Linked DNA regions of Homo sapiens: region 1 is linked to region 2. The links come from fine-mapping of genetic effects on plasma protein levels. Region 2 holds a variant in brackets. A gene starts in the other region. All regions are shown on their reverse strands.

Region 1 (8,287 bases), not on the chromosome of region 2:
AGGGGCCAACACCACCCCTCCCCAGCCAAGTTCTTCCCTCCTAAAAATGAGCTGATTGGCAGCTCAGCACAGTGGCTCATGCCTGTAAACCCAGCACTTTGGGAGGCTGAGGTGGGTGGATCACCTGAGGTCAGGAGTTTGAGACTAGCCTGGCCAATATGGTGAAACCCCGTCTCTACTAAAAAATATAAAAATTAGGCCGGGCGCGGTGGCTCATGCCTTTAATCCCAGCACTTTGGGAGGCCAAGGTGGGCGGATCACGAGGTCAGGAGATTGAGACCATCCTGGCTAACACGGTGAAACCCCGTCTCTACTAAAAATATAAAAATTAGCCGGGTGTGGTGGTGGGCGCCTGGAGTCCCAGCTACTCGGGAGGCTGAGGCAGGAGAATGGCGTGAACCCGGGAGGCAGAGCTTGCAGTGAGCCGAGATCGCGCCACTGCACTCCAGCCTGGGCGACAGAGTGAGACACCGTCTCAAAACAAAACAAAACAAAAAACAAAAATTAGCCAGGCATGGTGGTGGGCGCCTTTTTTTTTTTTTTTTCCAGAGTCTCACTCTGTCACCCAGGCTGGAGTGCAGTGGCTCAATTTCAGCTCACTGCAACCTCTGCCTCCCGGGTTCAAGCGATTCTCCTGCCTCAGCCTCCCGAGTAGCTGGGATTACAGGCGCCCGCCACCACGACCAGCTAATTTTTGTATTTTTAGTAGAGACGGGGTTTCACCATGTTGGCCAGGATGGTCTTGATCTCTTGACCTTGTGATCCACCCGCCTTGGCCTCTCAAAGTGCTGGGATTACAGGCGTGAGCCACTGTGCCTGGCTGATAGTGGGCGCTTTTAATCCCAGCTACTCTGGAGGCTGAGGCAGGAGAATCACTTGAACCCAGGAGGTGGAGGTTGCAGTGAGCCGAGATCACGCCATTGCACTCCAGCCTGGGCGACAATAGCAAAACTCTGTCTCAATGAAACAAAACAAAACACCAACCAAACAAACAAAAAATTGTTTTAATACAAAGTAAAGAGCTCTCAGTAAATGTCAATGTCTAGACAAGCAGAGATGAAACACACAGATGAATTAGACCTAGTGTTGTCTTCAGGGAGCTCCCGGGAAACTGATCTCTGCAGAAAGGGGGAAGCACAGGCACTGTGGGGGGTGCCCAGAGGAGGAGGAGGTGATGCCAGAAAGTTCTGGGGGGATGAGCAGGTGGAATGAATGAGCCGAGGATGAGCTGATGAGATAGTGGAGGAAGCTGGGGTGCAATTCTCTGCCTAAATGGCCTTTGGAGTTCTCTGCAATCTCACCTCTGCCAGAACTAACCTCCAGAGGCCGAGTCTGAGTCCCTGCAGAGCCCAGCCCAGCAGGAGCAGGGAAAGGGAGGACTCGAGCCCTCCAGGTGTCTCCCAACCGCGGCCTCTGAGGGCAAGGGGCAGCGCATTCTGTTGGAACCTCGGACTGCAGTGCCAGGCAGGTAGTTCCCAAGGCTGGAGGCCAGGATCGAAGGGCTGGGCTGGGCCTGGCTCTGATAGCAAAACAATCAGACCACAGCCCAACCCCCTTCCCAGGCAAAGGCCAAGGACTTGGACCCATCAGACCCAGCCGAGGGGCAGGTGGGTCAGGTGGGGGCAGACAGGGAAGGAGGGTGGGACCCTGGGTCTGCCGCCCAGCCAGGGACCCTGCTTTGGCCAGCTGCTGAAACTCAGAGGATGTAGGACCCAGTGTCAGGGCTCCCGTGGGGACACCCCAGGCCCAGGAATTGTCCTTTGGCGACTGAAATCCTCAAGTGCTTGCTCTGCGGTAGGGAGTGGGGAAGAAGGAAAGAGTTCCCTATTAATAACAGGAACAGTTACTATTGCCGCCGCCAGACATGAGGCCTAGTCTTTTGCAGGCATGAGCTCACTGGACCCTCAAGTCAGAGCCATGCAGTGGGAATTTTAGATTCCCACTTTGCAGCTGAGGAAACGGAGGCTCCTAAAGGTTTAGGAAGCCGGGCACAGTGGCTCAAACCTGTAATCCTAGCACTTTGGGAGGCTGAGGCAGGCGGATCGCCTGAGATCAGGAGATCGAGACTACTCTGGCCAACATAGTGAAACCCCATCTCTACTAAAAAATACAAAAATTAGCCGGGCATGGTACACACGCCTGTAGTCCCAGCTACTTGGGAGGCTGAGGCAGAAGGATCGCTTGAGCCCAGGAGGCGGAGGTTGCAGTGAGCCAAGATCGCGCCACTGCACTCCAGCCAGGGTGACAGAGTGAGACTCTGTCTCAAAAAAAAAAAAAAAAAAATGGTTTAGGAGCAACTAACTCTCAGCTGGACTGCATGGAGGGACCAGGATGGGAATCCACTCTTGTCAGTCTCCAGGGCCCTGATCTCCAACCCCACCCCTGGCTCGGCAGGATTAGGATTCTACAATACATCCCTGGCAGTAACTGGCTTTGCCCACAGCTGGAAGCCACCCTCTGCTCCCTCACATCTTTAGGAGTCTTGCAAAAGACTCCATGGGGCTCTCGAAGAAGGAACTGGGGACTCTCCATCTCCCCGACCCCATCCCAAGAGCTAACCAAACACCAGGAGTTCCTGCATGTCAGGAGCGGGAGAATTCAGTGGAGATGGGATTGGGGAGACTTCCGGAGGAGATAAGAGACAAAAGGGGTGGGGTGGGGGCATGGGGAGAGGGGCACTTGGTGGTAGGCATTGCCGAACACAGTACCTTGGGTGTGGACAGCGGGGGCCCAGGCTCCCAGGAAGCCGGCCACCAGGCAGGCCAGGAGCCACAGGTTCATGCTGCAGGCGGGTCCTCCTCCCTGGGCACCTGGACGAATAACGGGGCCACCTGGGGTCGTGGAGGGAAGTGGTAAGGACTGAGGAAGAGGAGGGGAGTGGGTACTGGGAACATCCCCCCTCTTAAGCCCCAGGCATATGGCAAGGGAAGGAGGTTGTATAAAGTAGGAACAAGTTGTGCTGGAGGGAAAAGCTGTTCATCTCAGTCATGTTCAAGGAAAAGACTCACCGATATCCACTGGGTCAAGGGAGCTGATGCCCGCCGGGCTGTAGGCCAAGCTGTCCCATCTGCAGGACCAACACGCTGAGCTTCACTCTTTATAGACAGAGCCCCACCCAGCCACCCCCTGCCCGCCCTCCTCCCTTCCTCCTCCTCTCCACCTGCACTCTCAGCCTCTGGAATTCTCCCTCTTCTACAGCAAGCTCCAACCTCGACCCACAGGCCCCCTTGCCTCCCCACTCCCCATCCCAGGCCTCCCAGCCAGCACCCCTACTGTCTCCAGAAAGGGCCTTTTCCCCTGTTTCCCTCACCTGCACACACCTGGTGGACACTGGCTGCCTGCGAACAAGGCTCAGACTGCCTTGAGCCCCCAAACAAGCCCTTACCTTCATGCTCCCCCCGCCCTCAAGCCACCTGTTCCCTGGTGGGTCCCCAACTTCACTCCATTTCCCTCTCCTTCCACACCATGGTTAGGTAACTTAGCATGTCACAGAAATCCTCTGGTTGTGATCACAGGCAAATCCATAGAAACAGAAAGTAAATTAGCGGTGGCCACAGGATGGGGGGAGGGGAGAATGAAGGACTGACTGTGAGAGGGTATGGGTTTCCTTTTGTTCTGAAATTAGATGAGAGTGATGGTTACATAACTCTATGAATATAGTCAGCACGGCACAATGGTGCACCTCCCACCGGTGAACAACCCCAACAAGAAAGAAACTCTCTAGGCCAGGCATGGTGGCTCATGTCTGTAAGCCCAACACTTTGGGAGGCCGAGGCCAGAGGATTGCTTGAGCCCAGGAGCTCAAGACCACCCCGGGCAATATAGAGAGACCTGCGTCACTACAAAAATTTTTTAAAAAATTAGCCTGACGTAGTAGTGCATACCTGTAGTCCCAGCCACTCAGGAGGCTGAGGTGTGAGGATTGCTTGAGCCTTGGAGGTTGAGGCTGCAGTGAGCTGTGATCATGCCACTGCACTCCAGCCTGGGCAACAGAGCAAGACCCTGTCTCAAAAAATGGAAAAAAAAACGGTGGCCGGACACAGTGGCTCACACCTGTAATACCAGCACTTTGGGAGGCCGAGGCAGGCGGATCCTCTGAGGTCAGGAGTTCGAGACCAGCCTGGCCAACATGGCAAAACCCCATCTCTACTAAAATTACAAAAATTAGCCGAGTGTGGTGGGGGGGCACCTGTAATTCCAGCTACTCAGGAGGCTGAGGCAGGAGAATCGCTTGAACCCGGGAGGCGGAGGTTGCAGTGAGCCGAGATTGGGCCACTGCATTCCAGCCTGGGCGACAAGAGTGAAACTCTGTCTCAAAAAAAAAAAAAAAAAAAAAAACAAAAGAAAAAGAAAAAATGGAAGAAATGTTTTGTTTTTGGAAGAAAAGCCAGGAGCCCCGGGTAGCCATGCCCTCAGGAAGCAAAGCAACATTCACCGAGAAGGCATGTCTTTTTTTTTTTTCTTCTGAGACGGAGTCTTGCTCTTTTGCCCAGGCTGGAGTGCGGTGGCGCTGTCTCGGCTCACTGCAAGCTCCGTCTCCCGGGTTCACGCCATTCTCCTGCCTCAGCCTCCCGAGTAGCTGGGACTACAGGCTCCCGCCACCACGCCTGGCTAATTTTTTGTATTTTTAGTAGAGACGGGGTTTCACCATGTTAGCCAGGATGGGAGAAGGCATGTCTTCTTTCCCTGGGGCAGCAGGACCCAGCCAGGACACAGGGACTGGGGGAGACACGAGGTGAAGATTAGGGAGGGCGAAAGGAGCGCTGCAGAGGCCGCACAGCTGATTGCTTTAAACTTTTTATCGCCTGCATCCATAGCTACATCTGACCTCTGTGGGTATTTATCACATCCTAAACTCCTTTCTCATTTCTCCCCTTCCACTGGGAGCCCAGAGGCGGCGGCCCCTAGCCTACTTCCCTGTCCCAAACCACATGGCCGGGTGAGTGGGGCTTAGAGGTGGGGCCGGGCCTGGTGGGTGTGGCTTCTAGCCGGGGACGTGACTAGATAAATGACACTTAGAGCCCAGGGGCAGGGCTGGGTGGGCGTGGCTTATGGCTATGGGCGGGGCTTGCTATATGGCTCCGAGTCAGGGGCAGGGCAGAGTGAGTGGGATTTAAGACAGTGGGCGGAGCCTGACAGATGGCGCTTATGGTAAGGGGCCGGGCTTTGTAGGAGGGGCTTAGACTGGGGCGGGGCTTGCACGGTCAGCCCCGCCCCACCAGAGCAGTTAAGACGCGTCGGGGGCAGGTGCTCTCACCCGTCCCGTTGCTGCGGCCAGTGGCAGCCCACGGGCCGGGGCGCTGTTCCAGTTCCTCCGCCTCTTGCTCTGGGTGGGTGAGGCTGGACCAGGACGCGGCTCCGCGTGGCTGCGAGCGTGGGGAAGCGGCGTGGCGGGCTGGGGCCAGCCTCTCCGCTACGGCTCACTGCCCCCTACCTTCCCAACCCGCGGGCCGCGGCCAAGACGGTGTTACCCAGACTTGGGGGAGGTCCCCAACGTGAGTCTCCCTCCCTGCCTCACCCCTCACTGTTTGTCCCGCCGGCAGCCTTCACGGGGAGGAAGGGTTCCCAGTAAGGGGGCCCTCCAGGGACCAGCAAGCACGGAGCACTGGGGTGGGCGCGCTGGGGACCTGGGACCCAGGGGTTGGAGCAAGAAACGGGATGATCCCGGAGTTCTGAGGACCACAGTTGCTTTGAGTAAAGGCCAGACCTTCACAGTCGGGGCTGGACTGGCCTCTTCCACTCCTGCAGCAGCTGGGGGCATTAAGAGTAATCCGCTATCGGCCGGGAGCAGTGGTTCACACTTGTAATCCCAGCACTTTGGGAGGCCGAGGCGGGCGGATCACCTGAGGTCAGGAGTTCGAGATCAGCCTGGCCAACATGGTGAAACCCCATCTCTACTAAAAATACAAAAAAAAAAAAAAAATAGCCGGGCATGGTGGTGCGCACCTGTAATCCCAGCTACTTGGGAGGCTGAGGCAGGAGAATTGCTTGAACCCAGGAAGTGGAAGTTGCAGTGAGCCAAGATCTTGCCATTGCACTCCAGCCTGGGCAACAAGAGCAAAACTCCATCTCATAAAAAAATAAAAGAGCAGTCCGCTATCAGCAAGGGTCCTCTTCTCCGCCAGTGTGAAATCAGCACAGCTGGGGGGAACAAGTGCCCCCCACACCGACTTCTGTTCTGCACCTCTGATGATGGGAGCAGTTGAGGGTGGTCTCCATCCTGTAGCTCAGCCAAATTCAGAGACCAATACCCCAGAGCCTGCAGGGTTGGGTGGGTAGGCAGGTGTCTTTCTAGACAAGCCCAGTTGGTTGCAGTGGCCAGGTGGTGGGCAGGGGCGATGAGATGTTCTGGGAAGCCTGCACCAGCCACCACCACATCTGCCCTACCCAGTGGCAGGCACCTCTAGTGGGATGAAGGATGCTCCTGGGTGCTCACCATTGGCCCAACTGTGCAAAGGAGGAGATTGAGGGTCAGAGAAGCCAAGTTACTTACTTTTTTTGTTGGCCAGGAAAATCTAATTTTTATTTCTTAAATACTGTGAAGAAAAGGACAGTCCCCCAATGGGGAAGCGCCATAGAGCAGATGACTGGGAGGTCATCGGCAAAGGCTCAGGGGCACTGGGAGAACACTATGGGCAGAAGTGGGGGTCCTCCTGTAGTCACTTTTGCATATCAGACCCCAGCTGCCTGCAGCTCTCCTGAACTCTGGTGCCTCCAGGTCCCTGATGAGACTCTTGGCTTCTGATGGGCCCCCACTGCCCTGCATGGTCACGAGTCTTGTAGGGAGCAATCCACACCCCAGGAGCCCCGTCTGCCAGGCCTGGACTCCTGTTGTACCCACAGCTGCCTCTTTTTTTTTTTTTTTTCGAGACAGAGTCTTGCTCTGTTGCCCAGGCTGGAGTGCAGTGGCAGGATCTTGGCTTACTGCAACCTCCACCTCCCGGGTTGAAGCGATTCTCCTGCCTCAGCCTCCCGAGTAGCTGGGACTACAGGCGCCTACCACCATGTCTGGCTAATTTTTGTATTTTTAGGAGAGACTACATTTCACTATGTTGCCCAGGCTGGTCTCGAACTCCTGACCTCAAGTGACCTGCTGGCCTTGGCCTCCCAAAGTGCTGGGATTACAGGCTTGAGCCACCATGCCCAGCCTCCAGTTACCTCTTTTTAAAGAGAATTTGGTTATTTGAAAGATCTTTCTTCTTTTTTATGTAGGCATTTATTTATTGCTATAAACTTCCCTCTTAGAACCACTTTTGCTGCATTCATTGGTTTAGGTATATTGTATGTCCATTTCAGTTTGTCTCAAGTTTTTTGTTGTTGTTGTTTCTGTTTGTTTTATTTTGTTTTTAGAAACATCTCCCTCTATCACCCAGGCTGAGTGCAGTGGCACAATCGTAGCTCACTGCAGCCTCCAACTCAAGTGTTCCTCCCACCTTAGCCTCCCAAATAACTGGGACTACAGGTGAGCATCACCATGCCTGGCTAATTATTTTTATTTTTTGTAGAGATGGGGGGAGCGTCTCACTATGTTGCCCAGGCTGGTCTTGAACTCCTGGCTTCAGGTGATCCTCCTGCCTCAGCCACCAAAGTGTTGGGATTACAGGCGTGAGCCACTGCACCTGGCCTCAAGATATTTTTTAATTTCGTTTTAATTTCTTCTTTGACACATTGGTTGTTTAGGAGAGTGTTGTTGAATTCTCACGTGTGAATTTTCCAGAATTCCTCCTGTTATTGATCTCTAGTTTCGTATCACTGTGGTCAGAAAAGATACTTGATACAATCGCAATCTTACATTTGTTTTTTTGTTGTTGTTGTTGAGACGGAGTCTCACTCTGTTGCCCAGGCTGGAGTGCAGTGGCACCATCTCGGCTCACTGCAAGCTCCACCTCCCGGGTTCACGCCATTCTCCTGCCTCAGCCTCCCAAGTAGCTGGGACTACAGGCGCCCGCCACCACCACACCTGGCTAATTTTTTGTATTTTTAGTAGAGACGGGGTTTCACCATGTTGGTCAGGCTGGTCTCGATCTCCTGACCTCGTCATCCACCCGCCTTGACCTCCCAAAGTGCTGGGATTACAAGTGTGAGCCACCGCACCTGGCAATCTTACATTTGTTCAGGCTTGCTTTGTGGTCTAACATGATCTATCCTGGAGTATGTCCCCTGTGCACTTGAGGAGAATGTGCGTTCCGCTGCTGTCAAATGGAATGTTCTACATATGTCATTAGTTCCATTTGATCTACAGTGCATTTCAAATCCAATGTTTCCTTACTGATTATCTGCCTGGATC
Region 2 (8,328 bases):
TCTTTCTCCACTGCAATTCCCCTGCCTTGATAAATTGGCTCTATCTGGGCAGTGGACAAGAATTCACTGGGCAGTTACACCACCACACCCAGCTGAATTTTTTTTTTTTATTTTTAGTGAAGACGAGGTTTCACTGTGTTGCTCAAGCTGGTCTCGAACTCCTGAGCTCAAGTGATCCTCCTACCTCCACCTCCCAAAGTGCCAGGATGACAGGTGTGAGCTACCGTGCCCATCCCATAATGTCTTAACATCTGGAGAATAATACATGTTTTCTTTAATCCTCAAAATAATTCAGTGAGTAAAATCCTTCTTCCATGATTGCAAATGAGGAAATGGAACAGCGGTGAAGCAACTTGTCCCTGGCCACAGGGATGTTAAGTGCAACCCTGAGATCTGCACTAGCCTCTGCATTTCTCTCCAGGGCCTTTTTGAATGCATGGCCTTCTAGTAGAGCTTTGTAGGTTCTCATGTCATCCTAAGACTCAGAAAGTCCATCAGGTTTCCCCTGGTAGAATCAAAAGTCTTGTAGTTTATTGGTCTTGTTAGTCTTAGTCCCAGTTAATAAAAAAACATATATATATATGTACACACACACACACACACACACACACATATATATACATGCATATATAAATTATAGGGATATTTTGTCTTTTTTTTTGAAACAGGGGCCTGCTCTGTCGCCCAGGCTGGAGTGCAGTGGCACAAACACAGCGGACTGCAGCCTTGACCTCCCAGGCTCATGCAACCCTCCCACCTCGGCCTCTCAAGAAACTGGGACCACAGGCACGTGCCATCATACCTGGCCAATTTTTCAGTTTTTTTGTAGAGATGGGGTCCCCTGTATTGCTCAGGCTGGTCTCAAACTCCTGGGCTCAAGTGATCCTCCTGTCTTGGTTTCCCAAAGTGCTGGGATTGCAGGTGTGAGCTACTGCACCCGGCCCAATAAAAAAATCTCGTTCTGTGAAAGAAATGTTTAATAAAAGTTGTATTGTCAAATTTTTATAAAGTGAATCCCTTTTCAAATGAACCAGTGTAAAAGAATGCTTGAAAGAACTTCCAGTGAAGCAGAGTCCTTTTGCAATAGTAAAATTTACACCTTTGTTTATCTGTTTTGTGATGCAAATTTGGAGGGGATATTTGTTTTTTTTTTTTTTTTTGGTAGAGCCTCTGTTGCCAGGCTGGAGTACAGGGGCACGATCTCAGCTCACTGTAACCTCCGCCTCCTGGGTTCAATTGATTTCTGCTTCAGCCTCCCAAATGGCTGGGACTACAGGTGCCTGTCACCACACCTGGCCACTTTTTGTATTTTCAGTAGAGACAGGGTTTCACCATGTTGGCCAGGCTGGCCTCGAACTCCTGACCTCATGATCCGCCTGCCTTGGCCTCCCAAAGTGCTGGGATTACAGACATGAGCCACTGCAGCCGGCTATTTGGGTCTCTTAAAAAAAGGCATACCCACCCAATTAAAGTCAAATTGCATTATGGAAAATGTTTGTGAAAATCAAAACTCTCTGTAAAAAGAGCAGTAACATTGGGCTCTAAGGTAAAGATCAATGCTTCCTGGAAAACATCTACCTTTCTACATCACCAGCAATTGATATGCACTGTACAGCTGCTTGGCAAAAATGGCCAGAACAACAAATGGTAGTATCAATACTCTAAGACAGGGGTCTCCAAACCAAGAGCCGAAGACAGGTCCCGGTCTGTGGCCTGTTAGGAATCAGGCTGTACACCAGGAGGTGAGTGGTGGGCAAGCGAGCATTACCACCTATATTAGTCCGTTTTCACACTGCTATAAAGTGTGAGATATACCTGAGATAGTAATTTGTAAATGAAGGAGGTTTAATTGATTCACAGTTCCACATAGCTGGGGAGGCCTCGGGAAACTTACTGGTGGAAGGAGAAGAAGACACTTTCTTTTTTTTTTTTTTTCCGAGACGGAGTCTTGCTCTGTCGCCCAGGCTGGAGTGTAGCGGTGAGATCTCAGCTCACTACAACCTCCGCCTCCCAGGTTCAAGCAATTCTTCTGCCTCAGCCTCCTGAGTAGCTGGGATTAGAGGCGCCCACTACTGTGCCCAGTTAATTTTTGTATTTTTAGTAGAGACAGGGTTTCACCATGTTGGCCAGGCTGGTCCTGAGCTCCTGACCTTGTGATCCACCCGCCTTAGCCTCCCAAAGTGCTGAGATTATAGGTGTGAGCCACTGCACCCAGCGCAGGCACTTTCTTCACAAGGCAGCAGGAAAGATAGAGAAAAGCCCAGAGGAAATTGTCACTTATAAAACAATCAGATCTCACGAGAACTCCCTCACTATCATGGGAACAGCATGAGGAAACTGCCCCCATGATCCAATCACCTCCCACCAGGTCTCTCCCTCAACACCTGAGGATTACAATTCAAGATGAGATTTGGGTGGGTACACAAAGCCTAACCATATCATTCTGCTCCGGCCCCTCCCAAATCTCATGGCCCTTTCACGTTTCAAAACCAATCATGTCTTCCCTCAGAGTCTTAATTCATTCCAGTATTAACCCAAAAGTTTCAGTCCAAAGTCTCATCTGAGATTAGGCAAGTCCCTTCTGCCTATGAGCCAGTAAAATCAAAAGCAAGTTAGTTACTTCCTAGATACAATGAGGTACAGGCATTGGGCAAATGCTCCCATTCCAAATAGGAGAAATTGGCCAAAACCAAGGGGCCACTGGTCCTATGCAAGTCCGAAATCCAGCAGGGCAGTCATTAAATCTTAAAGCTCCAAAATAATCTTCTTTGACTCCATGTCTCACATCCAAAACACGCTGATGCATGGCCTTGGGCAGCTCCACCCCTGTGGCTTTGCAGGGTACAGCCCACCCCCTCCGACTGCCAGCTGCTTTCACAAGCAGGCATTGAGTGTTTGTGGCGTTGTCTGTGGCTTTTACAGGCACACGATGCAAGCTGTCGGTGGATCTACCATTTTGGGGTCTGAAGGATGGTGGCCGTCTTCTCATAGCTTCACTAGGCTGCCTGAGCTCCGCTTCCTGTCAGATCAGTGGCGGCCTCAGATTCTCCTAGGAGCAGGAACCCTGTTGTGAACTATGCATGTGAGGGATCTAGGTTGTCTGCTCCCTATGATAATCTAACTAATGCCTGATGATCTGAGGTGGAACAATTTCATCCCAAAACCATTCCCCCTCACTCCCACCCCAACCCCAGGTCCGTGGAAAAATTGTCTCCCACGAAACCGGTCCCTGGTGCCGAAAAGTTTAGGGACTGCTGCTATAAGAAACCAGTCCCAACTTCCTTAGAAAACTTGAAATTGCCATGTAGGGATAGTCAAAGGGTAGAAAAGCTGCTTAAGAAGCTGTTTTCTCCTAACCCTTCTCTCTGAGATTCTGCAGTTTTATGCAACAAGATCAAGAAGGTATCCATTGCACATAGATGTTTACTGATATCGTAGAGCTAAGATTTAGTGAGCATCACTTGATGCCTGACTGTGCTAGGGGCCTGCTACATCTCACTGGATCCTGACATATAAGTTTTATTACACATATCTTTCCCATTTTGATATTTTTAAAGTGCAAAACAATGTATTTTGGGGAGAAGGGAACCAGAGCAATAGAGAAACATATTATAGAAAGTGAAACTCTGACAAAGTCACTCACAGAGATAAACTTTTCTGCAATTTTTTTTTACTTAGTACTATATCTTGAAACTATATCTGGGCTGGGCACTGTGGCTTACACCTGTAATTCCAACATTTTGGGAGGCCAAGTGGGGTGGATCGCTTGAGCTCAGGAGTTTGAGACCACCCTGGACAACATAGTGAGACCCTGACTCTACAAAAATTAGCCCGGCATGGTGGCATGCCCCTGCAGTCCCAGCTGCTCAGGAGGTTGAGGCGGGAGGATTGCCTGAGCCTGGGAGGTTGACGCTGCAGTGAGCTGTGACTGTGCCACTGCGCTCTAGCCTGGGTGACAGAGCAAGATCCTGTCTCGAAACAAAAAACAAAACAAGCATAAAAGAAAATATCTCTGCATCAGATCTTATTCTTTTTAACAGCAGGATCATATTCCATTGGATTGATGTATCACTTCTTAATTAACCACTTCCCTGTTTATGATTGTTTCCAATTTTGGCTACTGTAAAATGCTGCAATAAACATCCTTTTACGTGTATCTGCAGTAAACA[T/C]CCTTTTATATGTCAAGAGTTTCAGAGAAGTTCCTGGAGGTGAAATGGCTGCTTCAGAAAGTAAGCAGATATAAATATTGTAATAGTTCTTGCCCAACTGCTTTCCAAAATGTTTATCTTTTCAGTACATTTTCCGGGTAAGGGCTCTCAGGTCTTGTAAACTAAGGGCTGTCTTTCCTTTCTGAGCTTTAGAGTACTTGATTCTATAATGATTACAGAACGATGAAACAATGAGCCCCTCGAGACAGGATTTCACTCTTCCTTTATCTTGCTGTCAAATGCATGCCAAGTGTGTTCAGACAGAACCTGCGTTACTCTGCCTGGCTGTGTGATTCTCCACCGCTCAAAGGCTTCTCCAACACATTTCTGTGTGGCTCCCTGGGAGCTGCTGGCAGATGGCCTGGGGCCTGTCAATCAGCCTTTGTGAACACAATCAGTTTGCAGAACTGAGGGACTGAGGCGTCCTGACCCATTTTCTGCTTCCATCACACCAGAAGTTGTAAACTCATGGTGTCATTGGAGACATGGGGGTGAGGTATTCCCAACACGTAAAGAATCATCAAACTAGAATTTCTTTTATTATTATTATTTTTTAAATTTTATTTTTGAGATGGAGTCTTGCTCTGTCGCCAGGTTGGAGTGCAGTGGTGCGATCTCAGCTAACTGCAACCTCCACCTCCTGGGTTCAAGCGATTCCCCTGCCTCAGCCTCCTGAGTAGCTGGGACTGCAGGCACGTGCCACCACGCCTGGCTAATTTTTTTTTTTTTGTATTTTAGTAGAGACGGGGTTTCACCATGTTGACCAGGATGGTCTCAATCTCCTGACCTCGTGATCCTCCTGCCTTGGCCTCCCAAAGTGCTGGGATTACAGGTGTAAACCACCACGCCCGGCCCAAACTAGAATTTCTAAAGAAAGGGCCCAAAAGCCCTTGGAAAGTAAATCATTTGGCAACTACATGCTCTCAGACTAGTCTCTCAAATGCCACAGAAGAGCTTTTTCCATAGGTTATAAACTAGAGCACAGAGCTAGCACTGAAGTGCAGTTCAGCCTGGTAGGGCATAGGAAATAGCACTTTTGTGTGTGGTCAGTTTGGACATTGGGTCTTTCCAAACCCTGACCCAATTATAGGCGGCAGCCCAATGTAGCTAATCCATTTATAACTAACAATTTCACATATAAAATGAAACTCTAATTGGGAGGCTGAATCAGAAGGATCACTTAGGCCCAGGAGGTCAAGGCTGCAGTGAGCACCACTGCACTCCAGCCTTGGTGATAGAGCAAGATCCCATCTCTAAAAATTAAAAAAAAATTCAATTGCTTTTTCAAATTATTATTAATCAGCACAGGAATACCTTAAGGAAGATTAAAAGAAGTAAAAGGAATGTGGCATACTTAAATCAGGTCTGTTTACCCAAAATATAACCAATAGCTCCGTATGTGTCTGTCTGTTAACCATCTCCACCAATGACACAGTGCTGGAACTGCCCGGGAAGCCCCCTCCCTTATTTTCTAAAGGGGAAACGGAATGGGCTCTGTTCCAAGATCTTCTTCTCCCAAATAGGATAACTGACTACCCTGTGTCAAGTAAGACTGGAAGACTCTGAAGATTTAAAAATAATTAATCCATTCAAATAAAATTACCTGATCCATGTGACAAACACATGGGCCTGGGTTTCCTCATTTTGGGTGGATGACCTCAAAGCATGGCAAAACTTCCAAATAAAATAAGGAATACATTTTGTGAAACATTTTCATAAATATAATTGAGGGAACCAAAGCTTAGTTTCCAGAAACAGTTATCCCAAGGATAATAGGAACTTGTTTTGCAGTTTGTATAGACAATCGGGCATACAGGCTTGGAGTTAGATTAGAATTCCCTAATGGGGCAGCAGTAGATTAATCCACATCTGCTTAGGTGATCCTACATCATCTGAGTTCAGCCAGTTTCTACCTATATTCTAATTTTTCCAGTATGAACAAAATTCTAGACCATGTGCAATTGCAAAACCTCAAATATTGTGCGACCCAATAAATGAACTTATCCAAATACATAGACTCTTAAAATGATTAACCCAGAATCCAGAACTGTTTATCCTTATTTTAATGTTCTGAACAACATGACCTTACTCACTACCGGTTACAAACTGGGTTCCTGTGAGTACTGTCCGTCTAAATTAAACTCAATTCTACCATCTGACCAAACTTCAAACCGAAGTGGCTTTATGGAGTGCTATAAGCAGTAGCACCAAAAATTTCACGTGAAGTTACACTAGTTATTCTTCTACTGTCCATGATGTCAATTAATAGTTGAGATTATGATTAATCCTAACCAAAACTCAGGGAAGTGGTGGGACATAAAACCTCCAGAGATGTTCTGGGGTTCTGAGAACACAGATCTGTAACCAAGTACCCCAATTTTTCTAAGAAATAGTTTAATTATTTTTTTCTCTTTCTTCTTTTTCCTCCTTTTCCCCACTTCTTACTTTAGCTCTTTAGAAATGCAATAATAGTCTATTACCTCCTCTTCATCAGATATTTCTTACAAATTCATCTAACTCTGTGCTTAGATGCTCCAGAGCAGAACGCTCACCCACCAGGAGGCTGCATGGAGAGATAACAGTCAATTTACAATCCAAAGTCCCACTACAAAACTCTCTCCCCACCTGGAGAGTTTTAGGCCACTTTTACAACCCATTTCTGCCATGAAAATGCCAGTCCAACCGCCCAGTAGGTAAGACACTAAGCTGGCACGAGGACCACCCCCAACCTGCTCACCTCCTCCCCTGCCTTTTAAAAGTGCCCACTTTCTACTCCGAGAGCAAAGCCGTACCCTTAAGCCAGGAAGCCTATGCTTCTTCCCCTAAGCTGGCTTTGGAATAAAAGCCACTTTATACCAGAACTCGCGCTTGTGAATTGGATTCTGCAAGTAGCAACTGACAGACCCTGCATTTTGGTTATGATCTGGGCCTTCGTTGAGTGGCCTGCTCATTACTACAAAGTCCGGTCCTGCAGCCATCATGTGGAAATCGCACTGGGTATGGCCAGAGCCAGTGTCCCTCAGCTCCCTGTAGAGCATCAGAAGGGACTGGGGGAGGCTCAGAGCACCAGCAGTGACTTCTCAGCATGCATGAGGGGACACTTGGCAGAGGTGGCCCTGGCTATACAAGCCAGAGGCCGGGGAAGGACTGTAGGCATCAGCCGCAGATGCTGCAGCAAGTGAGGTCAATGACTAGCGACCAGGCCAAATGGAGGACGTTGCTGTACAGGGTGGCAGAAGATAGCATGGACCAGTACACTCCCCACTCTCTACAGAACTCAGCTACAATTAATATACCAACCACATATATAGAATTCTCATTATACCTTAATTATGGGTTATAGAGACCCTACTTCCTTGATACATCCACTTGACAACATCCACCTTAATATCTCTAATTTCCTTATTATTTTTAGTGTAAAATACTGCTATAAGGTGAGCTCTGCTAATAACAGCATCTAAACCCCACGATATTAGTTCTATTCAAAATCCATTTTTCAATGCTAGGAATCTTTATCCCAACCACAGGGATGATGCTATAATCTGCTTACTGTATTTATTTATTTACTTATGTCTATTTTTAAATATTTATTTATTTATTTATTTTTGAGATGGAGTCTTGCTTTGTCACCCAGGCTGGAGTGCAGTGGTGCAATCTCAGCTCACTGCAACCTCTGCCTTCTGGGTTCAAGCAATTCTCCTGCCTCAGCCTCCTGAGTAGCTGAGATTACAGGCGCGCACCAACATGCCCAGATAAATTTTGTATTTTTAGTAGAGATGGGGTTTCACCATGTTGGCCAGGCCAGCTTCAAACTCCTGACCTCAAGGTGATCCGCCCGCTTCGGCCTCCCAAACTGTTGGGATTACAGGTGTGAGCCACCACGCCAGGCCATCTGCTTACTTTAAATGGGTACCCTTTTTCATATTAACTGACCTCTCTCCTCTAATATTAGTTCGACCATCTAACTGAAGCTTGAGTTCCATACTAACCAGTTCTACCCATTCTCTTTGTGTTCTCCTGCCAGCATTAACATGACTTTTACCACTGCTACTTATAAGCAGGTGGGCTGATATGTCCCTATCAATTCCACTCTATTCTACCACAAAGGGTTGAAGCTTTC

Direction of the effects. Positions count from the first base shown, and alleles are read on the strand shown. Strength reflects both the effect of a copy and how common the allele is.
For the plasma level of the protein whose gene starts at base 3,071 in region 1, C is the low allele of the variant in region 2 and T is the other (moderate association).

Evidence for each region. PIP is the chance, under the fine-mapping model, that this variant and not a neighbour inherited with it causes the effect. The UK Biobank Pharma Proteomics Project read protein levels with antibody pairs (Olink). The fine-mapping took linkage between variants from a reference panel, not from the people measured, so its PIPs are less certain.
Region 1: CCL25 starts here. The variant in region 2 is fine-mapped to the plasma level of the CCL25 protein (UK Biobank, PIP above 0.99).

The regions. Positions count from the first base shown.
Region 1 is chr19:8,047,544-8,055,830 of GRCh38, reverse strand. CCL25 (C-C motif chemokine ligand 25) reads right to left here and starts at 3,071. Exons shown (of 6, transcript NM_005624.4): 1 at 3,009-3,071; 2 at 2,709-2,831. The coding sequence starts at 2,781. RefSeq lists silencers at 5,069-5,128, 5,429-5,518.
Region 2 is chr8:42,241,702-42,250,029 of GRCh38, reverse strand. It overlaps a transcript of IKBKB-DT not described here. Among named protein-coding and RNA genes, the nearest start is that of IKBKB-DT, 25 kb to the left of the region's middle. The variant T/C (reference allele first, on the strand shown) is at 4,170.